Regions from separate parts of the Homo sapiens genome. Here region 2 is linked to region 1. The links come from fine-mapping of genetic effects on plasma protein levels. A gene starts in region 1. The other region holds a variant in brackets. All regions are shown on one strand. Distances are from middle to middle.

Region 1 (8,346 bases):
AGGAGTCACAGGGAGGGTCTGCAGATGTGCAGGATGCCACAACGGCACAACCTTGCCCCTTCCCAGGGCATTCTGCATTTTTCTTTCCCTCTGGGTTTGGTCCAAGTCCACCTCAACCTTGAGCACACTCTCCTCAGTTTTTCTAACATTCTCTTTGCCCCATGCCCCTTTCCCATGTCCCCTTAGGGGAGGTTTCATCTCTTTTATGCTGCTGTAAAAAATTTTTCCTTGGTCTGGCTGAACTCTGAATCCTATCCGCTCCCTCCTCACAATGTCTTCCTTGATGACCCGAGTGTTGATCTCACTGAATGAGAGGCGGAGAGCTGCCATGTCAAAGAGGAGCCAGATGACAGAAGCTACAAAGATAAATGCCAAGACTCGCCCACTTCCTCGGAAAAACTTTCGGATCCTGTTCATGGTACAAAGCTTTCCCTAGCAGCCTGCCCTCCCTTAGCCTGCTTACCTTGAGTGGAGAGGAAGCTGAAGTAGCAGCAGCAGCAGCAGCAGCAGCAGAGTTGCCAGAAAGTGACCCCCTCCCCTGAACACAGCAGGAAGCAGCAGTCCAAGGGGAAAGCTCAGTTCCTACCGCTTGTCAGTCTCTGCCTGCGTGGCATTTCATAGCAGAGCATCTGTGCCTGCTTGGCTGGCCCTGGCTAAGTTCTGATAAACACTGGCCTTAGGTCACTCCAGGAGCAGTTGATTCCAGCCACCGAACAGTTCAACATATCACTTGTCTTGTCTCCGGGAGCCCATGTCCACCTTCCTACAAGCCCAAGAAAAGGTGGGGGCCAGATTGAGACTGCCGTTTCTCTCCTCCCCGTTCTCCGTCTGCACGCTGTAACTCAACACCACTTCTCATAAGGAAAACATTTCATGCCATTACCCAGAAAACTTCATTCAGCTCTCACCTTCTGTGTTATGTGAGAGCATGTGTGTTTAAACGGCAATTAAAGAGGAAAAAAAGCTATCTAACTTGGAGGGCATGTGTTCCTGGTTTGTGACCCCACCTACCCTACTCCTGCTCATTAACCCTGTTGTAGCCAGGTGCCAATGCTCTGCCTGAGGAATTTATCACTGAAGTTAACATTTCAGCTTTAAGACATAACAGCTTAAAGAAGGGGCCTGGTATATCCTCACTTCCAGAGATGTATATGTTTAATTATTTAGATCATTCATTCAAGGGGTTTCAATGTATTTCTTTGTAAGCCAACTATTTTTTTTTCACTAATCCATCTGTTTTTATTATTACATTTGATTACAAATAAACTTAATTTGTCATACTGCTATAAAAGTTTCTAAACACTTTGTTATGGTCTGAATGTTTATGTCCACCCAAAATTCATATGTTGAAACCTAATCATAAATGTGATAGTATTAGGAGGTAGGGCTTTTGAAGGTGATTTCATTATAAGGATAGAGCCCTCATGAATGGGATCAGCACCCTTAAAAAAGAGGCCCTATTGCCTTGCCATTCCACAAAGTGAAGACATAATGAGAAGGTGCCATCTATGAACCAGGAAATGGGCCTTCACCAGTCAACGAATCTGCTGGTGCCTTGATTTCTGACTTCTCAGTCTCTAGAACTGTGAGAAATAAGTTTCTGTTGTTTATGAGTCACTTAGTCTATGTTATTCTTCTATAGTAGCCTGAACAGATTAAGATACACTTACTCTCAGTTTCAGTACTTATCTCGTCTTAAACCAGCAAGCAACAGTTTCAGGACCACACCAGGACTTGGACCAGATTTTGAGTGATGCTGGTTGACTGGTAGGGTAGCAGTTCCGCCACAGGCTTTTCATTAGAACCACTTGAAACAAGATCCCCAAAACTCTGGTCAATTGATGAGAGAGGAGGTGGAGATGACATTTGGGCTGATATTGTATTAAATATATATATATATATATATATATATATATATATATATATATATTTTTTTTTTTTTTTTTTTTTTTACAAAGCTTCCCAGGTCTTTCAAATGTGCAGCTAAAGTTGAGAAACACTGGTCTAGAAAAAAAGTCTCAATTTTTTGTTTGTTTGTTTTTGGTTTTTGAACATTGCCTATGAGACATTTAATTTTAGGTGTCTACTTGACTGGGCTAAGGAACACCCAGAGAACCAGTAAAGCATTATTTTTAGGTATATCTGTGAGGGTGTTTCCAGAAGAGATTGGCATTTGACTCAGTGCACTGAGTGGGGAGGAGATGCCCTCACCCAATGTGGGCAGGCACCACTAATTGGTTGAGGGCCCAGATAGAAAAAAAGGCAGAGGAAAGGTGGATTCTGTCTCTGTTAGTGAGCTGGGACATCTTTCTTCTTCTGCCTTTGGACTAGAACTTTAGATTCTCTGGCTTTGGCCTCTGGGGCTTGTACCAGTCTGCCCCCACAACCTCCACATCCCTCACTAGGTTCTCAGGCTTTTGACCTCAGACTGAGAGTGATGTTATTGGCTTCCCTGGTTCTCAGGCCTTTGGACTCAGAATGTGCCATGTTACTGGCTTTCCTGGTTCTCCAGCTTGCAGGTGGCCTGGACTGAGGTTTCTCAGTCTCCATAACCACATGAGCCAATTCCTGTAATAAACTGCAACTCACTTATCTACCTCTATGAATCCTATTGGTTCTGTTTCTCTGAAAAATCCTGGCCAATACAGTCTACAACTTGTGTGACATTCCTTCCCTGTCTAAAGTACAGTCTAATAAAATCTATGCATTCCCATAACAACTAAATCAGAATACACATTTTGACATTGCCAGTTGTAAAGATTGTCCATAGAGTTTGAGAAGCACTTCTCGGGACCACTGTCCTTCTCTCTGAGGAACTCTGAGTGATTTGTGGACAACACTGCTGTTCATTACTCTAGTGTGGGGAGGGTCTAGCTTCCATGCTTTGAGGTAAACTTATGTTCCCAATGACTTGGGAGGGGAAGGAGAGATTCCAAATTCATATATATATCTCAAGCACTTTGCTAAGTTCTTTCCATTGACTATCTCACTCAATCCTCACAAGAATCTAATGTGAAGGAGTAAATTACAATATGTATTTTGTAGTCAGCAAATGAAACCTTAGAGAGGTAAAGCAACTTCTGGTAGAGATTGGAGGGGTTGGGTCTTGAATACACGACTGTAGTCCGTGTGCTTCAATATCACACAATACTGCTCTCTAGCTGTATGATCTTGCAGGCTAGTTAATTTTATGTGGTTACTGAGCAATAAAAAAAAATTCTGCTTTGCAGATTAATGTGAGAATATTTAAAAATGGTTAAAGTTATTGTTATATTGAAGGTACTCTTTAAATGTTAGCCATTCATATTGTTGCTAATACTTTGCTGTAATAGGAGTGTCGGATGCATGTGGGAGGCAATGTACCAGCTCTTCCCAAAAAAACAAGTAGAAAACTAGTGACTAACATGATTCTGGCAATGGGGAAGAAACAAATCTGAGTATTTTATTTTATTCTTGCCATTCTTATTTCCTCTAATTATAGATTTAACAAGACCATTGTTCACTGAGAACTCCCTACATGCCCAAAACATGAAGTAGGTGACATTGTCTCTGCCCCTAACAACCTTAAAACTCCCCTCAGTAGAACGCCACCAGTATAATAATAATAATAATAAAAAAAGAACGCCACCAGCAAAAAACATAGCACACATCTTTAGCATCCACATTCGAAAATAAAGTGAGAATTTTTTTTAGCATCATGGATAAATGGTTTGCATTACAATATTGTTTTAAACATGAAAATAGAATACTTTAAAATTATTTTACTCTGCATGATTCAATCTTGTCCAGCCACCATCCCACCCCAAATGGCAGTTGGAATTACTCAAATGTCTTTTAGGAAAGTCAACACTTGTTATATTCTATGCTTGGCAGTTTAAAACACTGCTTGAAATATATTCTTGTTTCCATATAAATTTTATCAAAGAGTACTGATTTCTTTTTATCCCTCTCTGGTTTGTCCTTGCGAATCAAAACACAAATTACTTGCAACAGGAGAGCAACATGTTAAGAAAATTAAAAGGGAATCTTGGCTTATCTATCATGGGTAAAGCAACACATTAACTCTGGCTTAGTCTTCGGTCTATTTGACATACAATTCAGAATGAAATGTGAAGAGTGGGTAGGAGAGTAAGGAAACATTGATTAAATATCCTAGAAATGGAGGAGTAGATTTGTTGTCAGACCTGGTCTAAAGTACTGACTTGGCCACTAATAGCCATATGACTATGGATGTGTCACACATGGAAAAGCTTGTGTAAGGTTCTCTTCCCAGCCTCTTCTTGGTCTTTTCCCTTGTGAGTTTATGATAATCTGTGATGATGGTAGAAGTTGGTTATAAGCCATACCACTAATTCAACACTATGTGTCTTCAGGCACTCAGTAATAATTTCTGTGGCCCTCATAGCTGTACATCTTTCTCCTTTTTTTTCTCTTTTCCGACACACATGCTGTTTCACATCTCAGATCAATGAATTGCATAGGTAAAAGGAATAGAAAAAAAAGGATATTAGGAAATTCTACCTTTTCATCAACACACATATTGCCCAACACATGACATTTGTATATTGGTAAATGACGGTGCTTCTAAAATTTTAGTTGTATTAATTTCCATGTTACCAGCAGGAAACTAAATACGTAAGTGGGTTGGTTATTTGAGGTACCCCACAGTTAGGGAGCCTGGCTTGTCATCCCAAGTCGTAGAATGCAGGTACCTTTGGCTGGTCAAATTTCTCAAGAATCTGTACATACTTAGTTGGAGATGATATCCATCTGAAAATCTGGAGTTACGAATTATCCTTGGGAGACATTTGGAGGGGTTATTCCAATTATCAGTCTGACTCCAGCTTGTACTAAACATTTAAAAACAGATTTTAGTTTCTTCTTCTGTAAAACGAGCATAATAGTAGGAGGACTTGCCCTCTACTCTATTTGGTTGTTGTCAGGATAATCATATTAATAGCAACCTTTCATTGGGAATTTACTGAGGGCCTACCACTAGTCACTTCACGGTATCTCATTTAATCCTCAACATTTAATTTTCTCAGACTAGATCAAAAACTGTTCAGCAAAACAGATCTGCATAAAGTTAGAGTGAAAAGTATATTTGTGTTATATTCTCATGGCAAATGTCTTTGAATCATCCTCATTGTTAATCAAGTAGGAGCTCAGTAAACACTGTTTTATATCTAGCCTTAAATCTCCCTGATGGAAGTACAGAATCTTAGAAACACCGGTTCCAGCTCTCTGGCTTTGCATCTACAGTTACTTTATCTGGGTATTTGAAGATTTCTTGACTATGTGAGTATATCCTAAGTAACTAATATCTGTTTTATTTTATGATATTTACTCAACTACTCACTCCTAAGTAAAAAGAAAGATGTAAAAGGAAAATTAATTTAAATGTATATTTTACAGAGAATAATGATTATCCATGGATGCATCACTGAATTTCTTTTTCCCCAGTTTTACTGAGCTATAATTGACTAATAAAATGATACATATATTAAATATTTAAGGTGTACAACATGACTTTGGATAGCCTTATACATTGTGGTATGATTGCCTCAATGCAGCTGATCTCCATTATCTCACATAATTATCTTTTTTTGTGTGTGGTGAGAACATTTAAGATCTACTCTCTTAGCAAGTTTCAAGTATACAATATATTATTATCAACTATGGTCATCAGGCTGTACATTAGCTCTCCAGAACTTACTAATCCTGCGTAACTGAAACTTTGTATTCTTTGACCAATACCTTCCAACTTTCTCCATCCCCCAACCCGCAGTAACCACCATTCTACTCTCTACTTCTATGAGTTCAATTTTTTAGCTTCCGCATATGAATGAGATCATGCAGTATTTGTCTTTCTATGCCTGGCTTATTTCACTTAGTGTAACGTCCTCCAGGTTCATCCACAGTGTTGCAAATGATAGGATTTTCTTCTTTTTTGAGGCAAAATAACATTCTTGTGTGTGTGTGTGTGTGTGTGTGTGTGTGTGTGTGTGATATATATGTATGTATGTTGCACTTTCTTTATTCATTCATCTGTTGATGGACACTTAGGTGAATTCCATATCTAGGCTATTATGCGTAATGGTGCAACGAACATGAGACTGCAGCTATCTCTTCAAGGTGCTGATTTAATTTCCTCTGGATATATAGCCAGAAGTGTGATTGCTGGGTCATATGGTAATTCTATTTTTTAGTTTTTTTGAGGAAACTCCACACTGTTTTCGATAATGGTTGTACTAATTTACATTCCCACCATCAGTGTACAAGTGTTCCCCTTTCTCCATATCCTTACCAACACTTGTTATCTTATATCTTTTTCATCATAGCCATTCCAAAATGTATGAGGTGATATCTTATTGTGGTTTTGATTTGCACTTCCTTACTGATTAGTGATGTTAAGCATTTTAAAAATATGCCTGTTGGCCATTTGTATGTCTTCTTTTGAAAAAGGTCTACTCATTTTTTTTCCCTATTTTTAAATCCAGTTGCTTTCTTGATATTGAGTTGAGCTCTTTGTCAATCAGTAGGAGCGCAATAAACATGGTTATATATTTGAGATATTAACTCCTTATTGGATGTATGGTTTGCAAATATAGTCTGTCATCCATAGGTTGTCTTTTCACTCTGTTGATTGTTTTCTTGGCTGTGCAGAAACTTTTTAGTTTCCTGCAGTGTCATTTGTCTATTTTTGTTTTTGTTATCTGTGCTTTCGGAGTTCCAAATAATCACCACTCAGACCAATGTCAAGATTTTTCCCTGTGTTTACTTTCAGTAGTTTTACACTTTTAGGTCTTCTGTTTAGGTCTTTAATCAACATTGAGTTGATTTTAAACCACAAAGAAATTAAGCAAACAAGCCTATTTACAATAGCATAAAAGTACTTAGGAATAAATATTTTTTAACCAAGGAGATGAAAGCATTTTTAACTAAGAAGGTGAAATCTCTGTGTACTGAAAACTATAAAATATTGATGAAAGAAATGGAAGACATAAACAAATGGAAATATATACTGTGTTCACAGATTGAAATAATTAGTATTCTTAAAATGTTCATACAAACCAAAGTCATCTATAAATTCAATAAAATGTCTATCAAAATTCTGGCGTTTTTCACAGACATAGAAAAAAAATCCTAAAATTTGTATGGAACCATAAAAGATATCGAATAGTCAAAAAAATCTTGAGAAAGAAGAAGCTAGAGGCATCATAGTACCTGACTTCAAAAATATGCTACCAAGTTATAGCAATCAAAATAGTATACTACTGTCTTGAGACAAGCCTGGGCAACATTATGAGACCCCCATCTCTACAAAAAATAAAAAAATTAGCAGGGCATCGTGGTGCACCTCTATGGTCCTAGCTACTTGGGAGGCAGAGGTGGGAGGATAGCTTGAGCTCAAGAGGTCGAGGTTGCAGTGAACCGAGTTTGTACTGCTGTTCTCCAGGTTGGGTGACAGAGCAAGACTCTGTGTCAATAAAAAGTATATGATACTGCCATAAAATCAGCCACATAGACCAATGGCACAGAACAGAGAGCCCGGAAATAAATCCACAAGTTTACAATCAGTTGTTCTTTGACAAAACAGCCAAGAATGCATAAAGTGGAAAAGGTAGTTTATTCAATAAATGGTGTTGGAAAAATTGGATATCCACATGGATAATTAATTTCAACTCATTGCGACTTCAGACAATACAGGATGAAGATACTAATTAGAAAATTTAAATGGGAAAACCAAGTAAATACTAATTACTGTTTTTTTCGGATTTTAATGTGATTTTTTTCTTTCCAAATTCTCTCTTTCTCTTTTTTAGAGAAGAGACAAGTTGTAATCAACTGGATAATAACATCCTGTGAAACAAATCCATAAAAGGAAAGAAAAGTTTTAAAATCATATACTAAAAGGCAGGCATTATTGCAATATCAACAGGTAGAGTAAAAATACAAATGGAAATATTATTCCATTTTAACTAATTCTTCCAATGAAGATGAATAGTTACAACTTCTGGCAGTCATTAAACATTGGTGTATGTCTCTTTTTAAATAAAATTTGGAAGCTGACTAACAAATGACCTTATTTCCTAAGACCAAGAGAATCAGTATACCCTTTACACATTTGTTCTTGAAAAGGGTTGCCTGTATTAGTGATAAATCATAATTGGTTAAGCCTAAGTTTAAAAAAACAAGAACCCTATTATTGAAAGACAATTTATTGTGTTTAGACCTCAGTTTTCATTGATTTTTGAGTAGTGAGGCTAAGCCAACATTTGTGCTATACTACTTTACAGGTCCCTAGCCAATTTTTACTTAAAAAATATTTTAGTTTAATTAGGA
Region 2 (8,346 bases), 69 kb after region 1:
AATAATTTAATATGTTATTTGTAGTTTCATCATTTTTTTTTTTTAAGTATGGTTCTGGTTTATTTTCTGAACAGACCTGAAAAGGAGGCAAGGTACAAGGCCTTTCAGTTCTCGGTTTTCATAGTAGGTGTATGGCAAATGGAGTTCTCACTGATGTGCTAATGTGGGCTTTTTGTGCTTCCCTCTTCCATAAGAACTACAGACACTGTGACCTATCTACTCTTTTTGATACGTATAATTTCTTTATGCTTGCTTTCCCAAACCAAATCAAAATCCTGTTTACACTGATGACTGGAAACTTGTATGTCTTAATCATACACTTCTTGAGAGAGACAGGCCAACAAGGCGCTTGGGAGGCATGCACACACGATTGCTATTTCTTCTTTCTCAACTAGACACTTTCAGGTGTTCCATACCCTTCTTAAAGTAACATCCTCCATCCATATTAATTAGCAAAATTGTCTCTGTTGACCACCCTCCAACATGCCCTATTAAAATTCCATTTCATAGGTGTCAATAGTGAAGGCAACACCGTTATCCTTACTCAATGTGCTTTTCTACATTTATATTTTTACTTGTGTGTTGTTGATTGAATCCTTAAGCGTCACACTACAGCACCAGTGGTCTCCAAACTGATTTTAATAATAAACTCCATAGCCAGTAAATCTTTTTGGCATGCGTTTGCCCTACAAACTGTGAATATTTGTTTACTAGATTATATGCATACAGGACTACACTACATATTTCTTTTATAATTATATAGTATATTAACAATTTAGTAATAAGACAGTAGTAGTAGTAACAATAAAGTGTATCAAAACTAGTATGCTTATGTAGACTACAGCAAACTAGTATCCAATATATTATAAAATACTATAATTTATTTACTTTGCATCACATACACAAAGGATGGGAAACAAGGAGTATGATATCATAAAGCCAATGTAAATATAAGTACAAGGCTAATTATTTTCCTTCCAAACCTAATTGACTGTCTTGTACAACACCCTGGGGTTCGTGCATCACCTTTGCCAAATGCTGTCATATTCTAGCAGAGAACATGAACGGAATTGTTATTACAACAAAAATATAATTTAAAATTATTTTATATCCATCTTTAGAACACATATTATGTAACTCACTGAATTATTCTTTGGCTTCACTTTGCAGTTCTTAATATAATAATAAAAGTAATTTGCATCTCCTGAAGGGGTATTTGCATGGTAGTGAACAGAATATCTTGAGTAGTTATGAAAAACTGGCCTGATATTTAAAATTTTCTCTGAATACACTAAAAAGTAAATAATAAACAAGTGGTTCTGTGACTTTATGGGGAAAAAAAGGAGATATAAAGACTAACACATCTTTTCAAGGTGCATGGAGAGAGACAAAGACCAAAGCAGGAACAGAAAATAGGTCCCCCGGCCTGTGTTCTGAAACAGTCACCTTGGTGGTACCTTGATACAGTAGTATTTGTAATTTCTACAATGAAAGAATACACTTTCATTCTTGTGCATGTATATAGTGATTTTTTAATAGTATGGTAAGGTCACTGGTAAAGTCACTAGTTGTAGCCTTCTATATAACTCTCATATGCCCTTAACTGTTCTCTTTTGGATAATCTTTCATTAAAAAATAGATAGTTAATAATGAGAATACATATTTGTTTTTTAGTTGGAGTTTTCAGATTTCTTAATTGGCACAGAATTTTAATCAGTCTGGTAAGTTAATGTTGACTGATAGTCTCTTTTTTAATATTGCCTATATCTTGAGCAGGTATACATTGCCTTCTAAATATCATTGCAGAAGGCTCTTTATCTTGTTAATTCATGTTCCTAAAAAACAGTTCTTTGGTTTTTACTATCTTATTTTACAAATATAGTTGATTCTCTTGAGAATTTGTTGAAAACTATGGACTTTCTCCCTGTGAAAATGCACATATTTACAAAATGACACTAGGTTAAGGCCTTTATTCTAGTATGATTATAGTATTAAACAACTTTCACACCCCTCAGTTCATAGGAAAATTATTTTTAATAAAGTTTTTTTATAAAATAAAACTTATTATTTTGCTGTAAACTTTATATGCAGAATTGTAGATGTGCTGCAGAGATAACAGTTTAAAACAGCAAAATAAGGAAACAGTGAGGAGGGGAGTTAAATAAGGGGCAGCCTTTCCCTATCATGACTGACTATTTTTTTTTTTTTTGAGATGGAGTCTCACTATTGTCACCCAGGCTGGAGTGTAGTGGCGCAATCTCGGCTCCCTGCAACCTCTGCTTCCCAGGTTCAAGCAATTCTCCTGCCTCAGCCTCCCAAGTAGCTGGGATTACAGGCGCCCGTCACCACACCCAGCTAATTTTTATATTTGTTTCAGTAGAGACGGGGTTTCACCATGTTGACCAGGCTGGTCTTGAACTCCTGACCTCAGGTGATCCACCTGCCTCGGCCTCCCAAAGTGCTGGGATTACAGGCGTGAGTCACCGTGCCCGACTGACTATTTCAACCTTTGCGGATGGTTGGGTCAGTGAGAGTGGCAAGAGAATTTCCAAAACCATGGGGTTGACTTCAGAATCAGGTGGATAAAGTCTGGACTCTAAGGCTCAGGCATCTCTGGTGCTCTGTCAAGAGTATTTGCCATGGTGGTAAAGAAATAGATGGTCCACGAAGTTTGGGAGCTGGGGATCAGAAACAAAGCGTGTGAGAATGGAGGTCAAAGAGTTAGCACCATTGAGAGAGAAGAAGGAAAATTCTTTATGAATCAGGAATTGTTAGCCCATGAACTATAAAGAGACTTATTTACCAAACCATGTGAAAGATTGATCTAAGGGTAGGTCAGTTTGAGAAGAAAAACTAAGACTTTCTTCCTTGGTCTGACTGAGCCTAAAGGAATTTTCCCCACTTAAAAATATCAGCCCTGACAGAAATTGTAGACTTTACAGGGCAATATTGAATTTGAATTTTACTGAGTTGATAGAGAATGCTTTGGAATTACATTATCTTAAATACTTAGAGTCAATGTCTAAATTCCTTGAGTCTCTTTTGTAAATTACTTTAATGCTTTACTTATTTTATTGAGTCTCCTAGATCAATTCATTGTACATTATTCTGCCACATTCTGGGAACTATATGTAGACATTGAATGCTTTCAAATCCTTTCCTGCCCAAGGCCTTTGTGCTTGTGCTTTTCTCTGTACTCCTCTTTTTCTCTGATATTTATGAGGCCCTCTCCCTCTTCTCCTCAGGTGTTTACCTAAATAATATGTTCTCCGTGAGGTAACCACCCTATTTGAGGTTACAGCCTTCCTCTAAGATTCCCTGTCCCCTTTCTTTGCATTGTAATTTCTCTCATCATTTATCACGATGCAACAAAAACAATGTCTTTTTATTTTTCATGTTTGTTTTCTGTCTCCCCCCAATATAATATAATTCTATGATGGAAGAGTGTATGTCTGTGGTTTGCTGCTGTTTCTCAAGTGTCTGGAACAATGCACATAAACAGGCATTTGATAAATACTTAGTAAACAAATAAAGGAAAGATGGAAATAGGTACTTTCATTTATTCACCCAACAAACATATGCAGTGCCTTCTGAGTATAGATCACCATAGTGGTCACTTGGGATATGATAGTGAATAAAAAGGACCTGGTCTGTGCTCTGAAGGAGCTTACAGTATATCCAGAACACAGGCCCATAAGTACATAAATATAACATGATGTTATAAATGCCATAAAATACTGAGAGACTGCAGAAGAGGGAGCTGTTAACTCTTCCAGGAGTAGTCAGGGAAGACTTTGCTGAGAGGTTGACCTTTGAAATGCATTCTTAAGAATGAGTAGGAATTCACTAGGGAAAGAAGGGTTGGAAAGATAGAGCAGGTTTCATTTAGCATGCATAGATATGTAGTTACAGTGAAAGAGACTGATGCTGGGGCAGTATTTTCAGGCATGTGAATATAAATGGGAAGAACGTGTGACCATCACCCCTTTCTGCACTGTACCTCTGAAGATCACTCTTGGCTAGCAGCATTAACTGCTGGGTACAATATTTCTATCTTTGTGGTCCTCTTCGCCTCAGCCAGTATGATGCTTTTGCTTGAAAAAAGCCACCTCATTCTCTGATTGTTTTATGCCAAGTTGGTGTGTTGCCTGTGATTGTTTCCCAGCGTTCCACAGCTTGAAGTTTGCTTTAGTGTATCCTTATGGTGTTTCTTATGCCTGCCCTGCTTGCAGGCTACATATGTTGTACCATTTTACACTTGGAGACCTTCCAAAATGCGTGAGAGAGAATGAGACCAAAGTGGTTGCCTTTAACCAGAGGGGGTAGACAGGCAAAGAATCCTGGATTCCTAGAATCAAAGAGTTGAAACACCCTTGAGAAGTCAACAAGACAATTTTCTGGATGCTTGGCAGGACTGCAGAAAAGGTTTTCCAGGAATACCACTAATATTTGTTCATATATATTACTAAATGAACTTTTAAATTAATTCTAAGTAACAATTGACTATTAAAAATTAAGCAGCAAATGCACAGATCTTATTTTCTCAGAATAATAAAAGTTTTCATTTTGGGTGATGTATTTATTCATGCAAATGATAGATAGTATGATGTTTAAAAAATGAAATAAATGTAATAGTGGCCTTCCATTTCCTGGCATATGTAACTAAAACTATTAAGAAATTAAAACCTTCACTCTTTTATAAAACATGATGTTTGGAAGGAATTCATCTTTGAGAGGTCTATTATTGAGATAGAATTCTTTTTTCCTCATATTGATACTGATCTTTCAGAATGATGCAAATAGTTGGTACTGGTTAGAAGGTAACCTTTTGTAAAGTGATCACATCTAAGTTTGTAA[T/C]TGAGGCCTTACGAAACTCAAAACTTTCAAAAAGAATCACTCTCAAGGAGTACAAATCTAGAAATACAATGGTAGACACAAATTATTGGAGACTGTTCAAGACATGGCTTGTTCAAGAAATGTAGTAGGTATTATGACATACCACAAAAATACAGGCATGATTTATTGTTTCAAAGAGATTGGGGAGATTATACATACTATGCTAATGGGGAGATTACACATCTGAGAACAGTGCATGGTATATGCTCAACATTCTGAGCAGCATTGCAATGACAGTATTGTTGAGCATTCTGAGCAAGTGATACCTTGGCAAGTGCTCCAGAGATTTAGTGGTTGGGGAAATTGCTGTGAGATGAAGTGGATAGAGGGAATACTCATAGTAGAAATAGAACCTGAGATGTTTTGCATGGATAAGGAGAAACAGCAAGGACACCACAGACTAGGAACAAAAAAATCACACAAGTAAATGTGTAAAGATGGTCAAGGGTAGAACATACAAGACCAAATTGGAAGAGTCAGCTTGGAAGGTTTGATAGAAACCAGAATATATTTGGTGTCTTAAATGCCAAGATGGTAATCTAACTTTTTGTTTGTTTGTTTGGAAATGGAGAGCTGGAGAGGATTCCCAGCAGAGCAGCAGCATGATGAAATTGTGCTTTAAAGTAGCATGATTCTTGGTCCTTAAGGTACAAACAAGGAACAAGACTAAAGAATTGTTGGAGGTCGGGTGCAGTGGCTAATGCCTGTAATCCCAGCACTTTGGGAGGCAGAGGCGGGTGGATCACTGGAGGTCAGGCTGCTGTCGCCACCCAGCTCTAGTCTATTCTAGGTGGAAAACGAGAAACAAGGGTGGAAACAACACGTATTTCCTGTGTGTGTGTGTATGTACATGTGTGTGGAGGTGGATCACTAGAGACCAGCCTGGCCAACATGGTGAAACCCCGTCTCCACTAAAAATACAAAAAAAAAAAAAAAAAAAAAAAAAAATTAGCCGGTCATGGTGATGCACGCCTGTAATCCCAGCTACTCGGGAGGCTGAGGCAAGAGAATTGCTTGAATCCAGGAGGTGGAGTGAGTGAGCTGAAATCGTGCCACTGCACTCCAGCCTGGGAGACAGAGCAAGTCTCAAAAAAAAAAAAAAAAAAAAGAATTGTTGGAGAATGTGTATAAGTATCACCTAGAATAATTAAAGCAGTGGCTAAGAACAACAGCTCAAGAGTCAGACTATACAGGTATGAATTCTGGTAGCTCTACTTAGTAGTTGTGACCTTAGATAAATCAGTTAACTTCTCAGTGCCTCCTTTTCCTCAGCTATACATTATAGATATTGACAGGGATTCCCTCATGTCTTTGTAAATGAGCCGAGATGCATAGGATTTTTAGAACAGTGCACAGTAAAATTTTAATAAATATTAGCTATTTTTATTATTAAAGAACAGTGCTAACTAGCTATCATGCAGAGATTATCGATCAGATTTCTATACCACCTCTAAAATGGAAGTAATGCCGACTCCTACATTGCAGACATGCTCTCACGATAAAATGAGAAAATTGCTCTAAAAGTCCCTGGCACAGAGCAGGCAGGGGTAATAATTAATTAGTTGATCCATGGCCTCAACCCCAGGCCACAATTTAAATTTAATCTCTTAGTTCAGATGGGTTTGTTTGGTAAGATGGAAGGAGGAATCCCTGTAGTCTCTGGACTCAGAAGACAGACTCAGACTGACACCTTATTTGGGTTTCCTGTAGAATGACGAAGACACAAAGACATGAGGAAAAGTCTTTGTTTGGGGAAACTTGATACTTTTCTGTTATTGCCAAAACAAACTCATTTGGACAAATAAAAATTGATTTGGAAATTTTAAAATAAAAATTGCAAACCAAACAGGATGTAGCCTGGTTAGGGAGGAAATGATTCACTGGATTAACGTAATCAAACAGCTCTATTTGTACAAGACTTAAACAATCACTAAGTTCTATCTTCAACACTTAATGCTGCTGTGGCCACCCAGCTCTAGTCTATTCTAGGTGGAAAATGAGAAACAAGGGTGGAAACAACACGTATTTCCTGTGTGTGTGTGTGTATGTGCATGTGTGTGCATTTGCATGCATGCACACACATATACTTAATGCCTTTGCTGGCTATCAACTTTTCTTACAACTGTGTGCTTCCAAATGATTTTTAAATTTCAATGTGTTTTTGGCAGAGGATAGATTTCCTTTCCATGAATATAAGGTAGTGAGAGCAAAGGCACTAAGTAGAAACAGTCTGAAAGTCAAAGGAATACTGTTAAAGATCCCTCTCCTTTTCCTTTTCCTGTAAAAGATAGGGTAGGAAGTGGCATGTGGCTAGAGGATTTACAGCCACATGATGGAGGACGGGAGAGCTGTCACCTGCTTTGCTACGCAGGGTGCCCAGCTTAACCCATCTTTCTTTGGCAACTGTGCCCCAGTGAGAAAAGCTAGCAGTCCATATGTTGAGTAGGCACCATGCCATTTTGACAGGCGTGAGTGTCGGCAAGAAAGGGACCATGTATGAGCATCAAATGTGTTTGTTGTGGGAAGGATTCTAGGCCAGGAATATTAAAATAACTGTCTGTCCTTAGCTCTAGCACATATGGTTAAGGAGATATGCTATGATGACTCACATTAACGTTGGAAAAAATATATATAGAATACGCAACCATGCTAAGTAAGTTTCTGATGTTGATAAATTGGGCCTGTAATCTTCACAAAGAAAGGTTGTAGAGAAACATACATAGCAATAATAGACTCTCTTTTATGTATTAAATAGAATTTACTAAAGACTAAATTCATACACTATTATAGTTCTCCTGAACTGGTGAACAAATTGGAGGATCCTATTAGATTTTTGCTGAGAGGTCCTCAGGTATTTCCTAACACTATTTGAAAAGTAAATGGGATAAAATGGGTTCATTTAATATTTCAATTCCAAAGAAATTAAATTAATGTTAGCAATGTTAGTTCAACTATTTTTCTGCTACAGGGACCATTTGTTTTAAAATCATTAAAGGATTTTAAATGACACTGTCCTGACATTTGGTGTGATTAAATTAAGGGAATTAGTATAAAGACATTTTGTCTCTCCTTAGCTTTCTAAATGAATAGTACATCTTCCTAAGTAGTAAAAAGGAATTACTGACCTATTTCTGTATTTATATTGACTTGCATATGTGTTTGTTGACTTTCTAAACATTTAGGCATATCACTGCTTCAATTCACAATTGTCCCTTCATAGATTCCAACAAGCTTGCTTAATTCCTTGGAAAGGCAGCATTGTATGGTGCTAAGGATATAGGATTTAGAGCTTAAGACATGTATGTGAGATTTGATAGTAGTCCATAAGGTGTTTAAACTTAAACCTATATGCATACATACACATTTCTCTCTCCAAACCCACACAAGCTTGGCATTTGTCATTTTTAAGTCTAGAAAGGCACATCTAGTTTATCTCTAGCTCTAGTAAGT

Alleles and levels. Alleles are on the strand shown, and positions count from the first base shown. The strength of an association depends on the size of the effect and on how common the allele is.
In carriers of allele T in region 2, the plasma level of the protein whose gene starts at base 795 in region 1 tends to be higher than with C alone (moderate association).

Evidence for each region. A credible set is the group of variants that fine-mapping cannot tell apart. PIP is the posterior inclusion probability: the model's chance that the variant is causal. Protein levels are from antibody-based Olink assays in UK Biobank. Linkage for the fine-mapping came from a reference panel and not from the study's own genotypes, which makes the PIPs less certain.
Region 2: its variant is the best candidate, but not a certain one, in a credible set for the plasma level of the GALNT5 protein (UK Biobank, PIP 0.85).

The regions. Positions count from the first base shown.
Region 1 is chr2:157,250,154-157,258,499 of GRCh38, reverse strand. GALNT5 (polypeptide N-acetylgalactosaminyltransferase 5) reads right to left here and starts at 795. Exons shown (of 10, transcript NM_014568.3): 1 at 1-795. The coding sequence starts at 417.
Region 2 is chr2:157,181,480-157,189,825 of GRCh38, reverse strand. No RefSeq gene overlaps it. Among named protein-coding and RNA genes, the nearest start is that of GALNT5, 72 kb to the left of the region's middle. The variant T/C (reference allele first, on the strand shown) is at 4,858.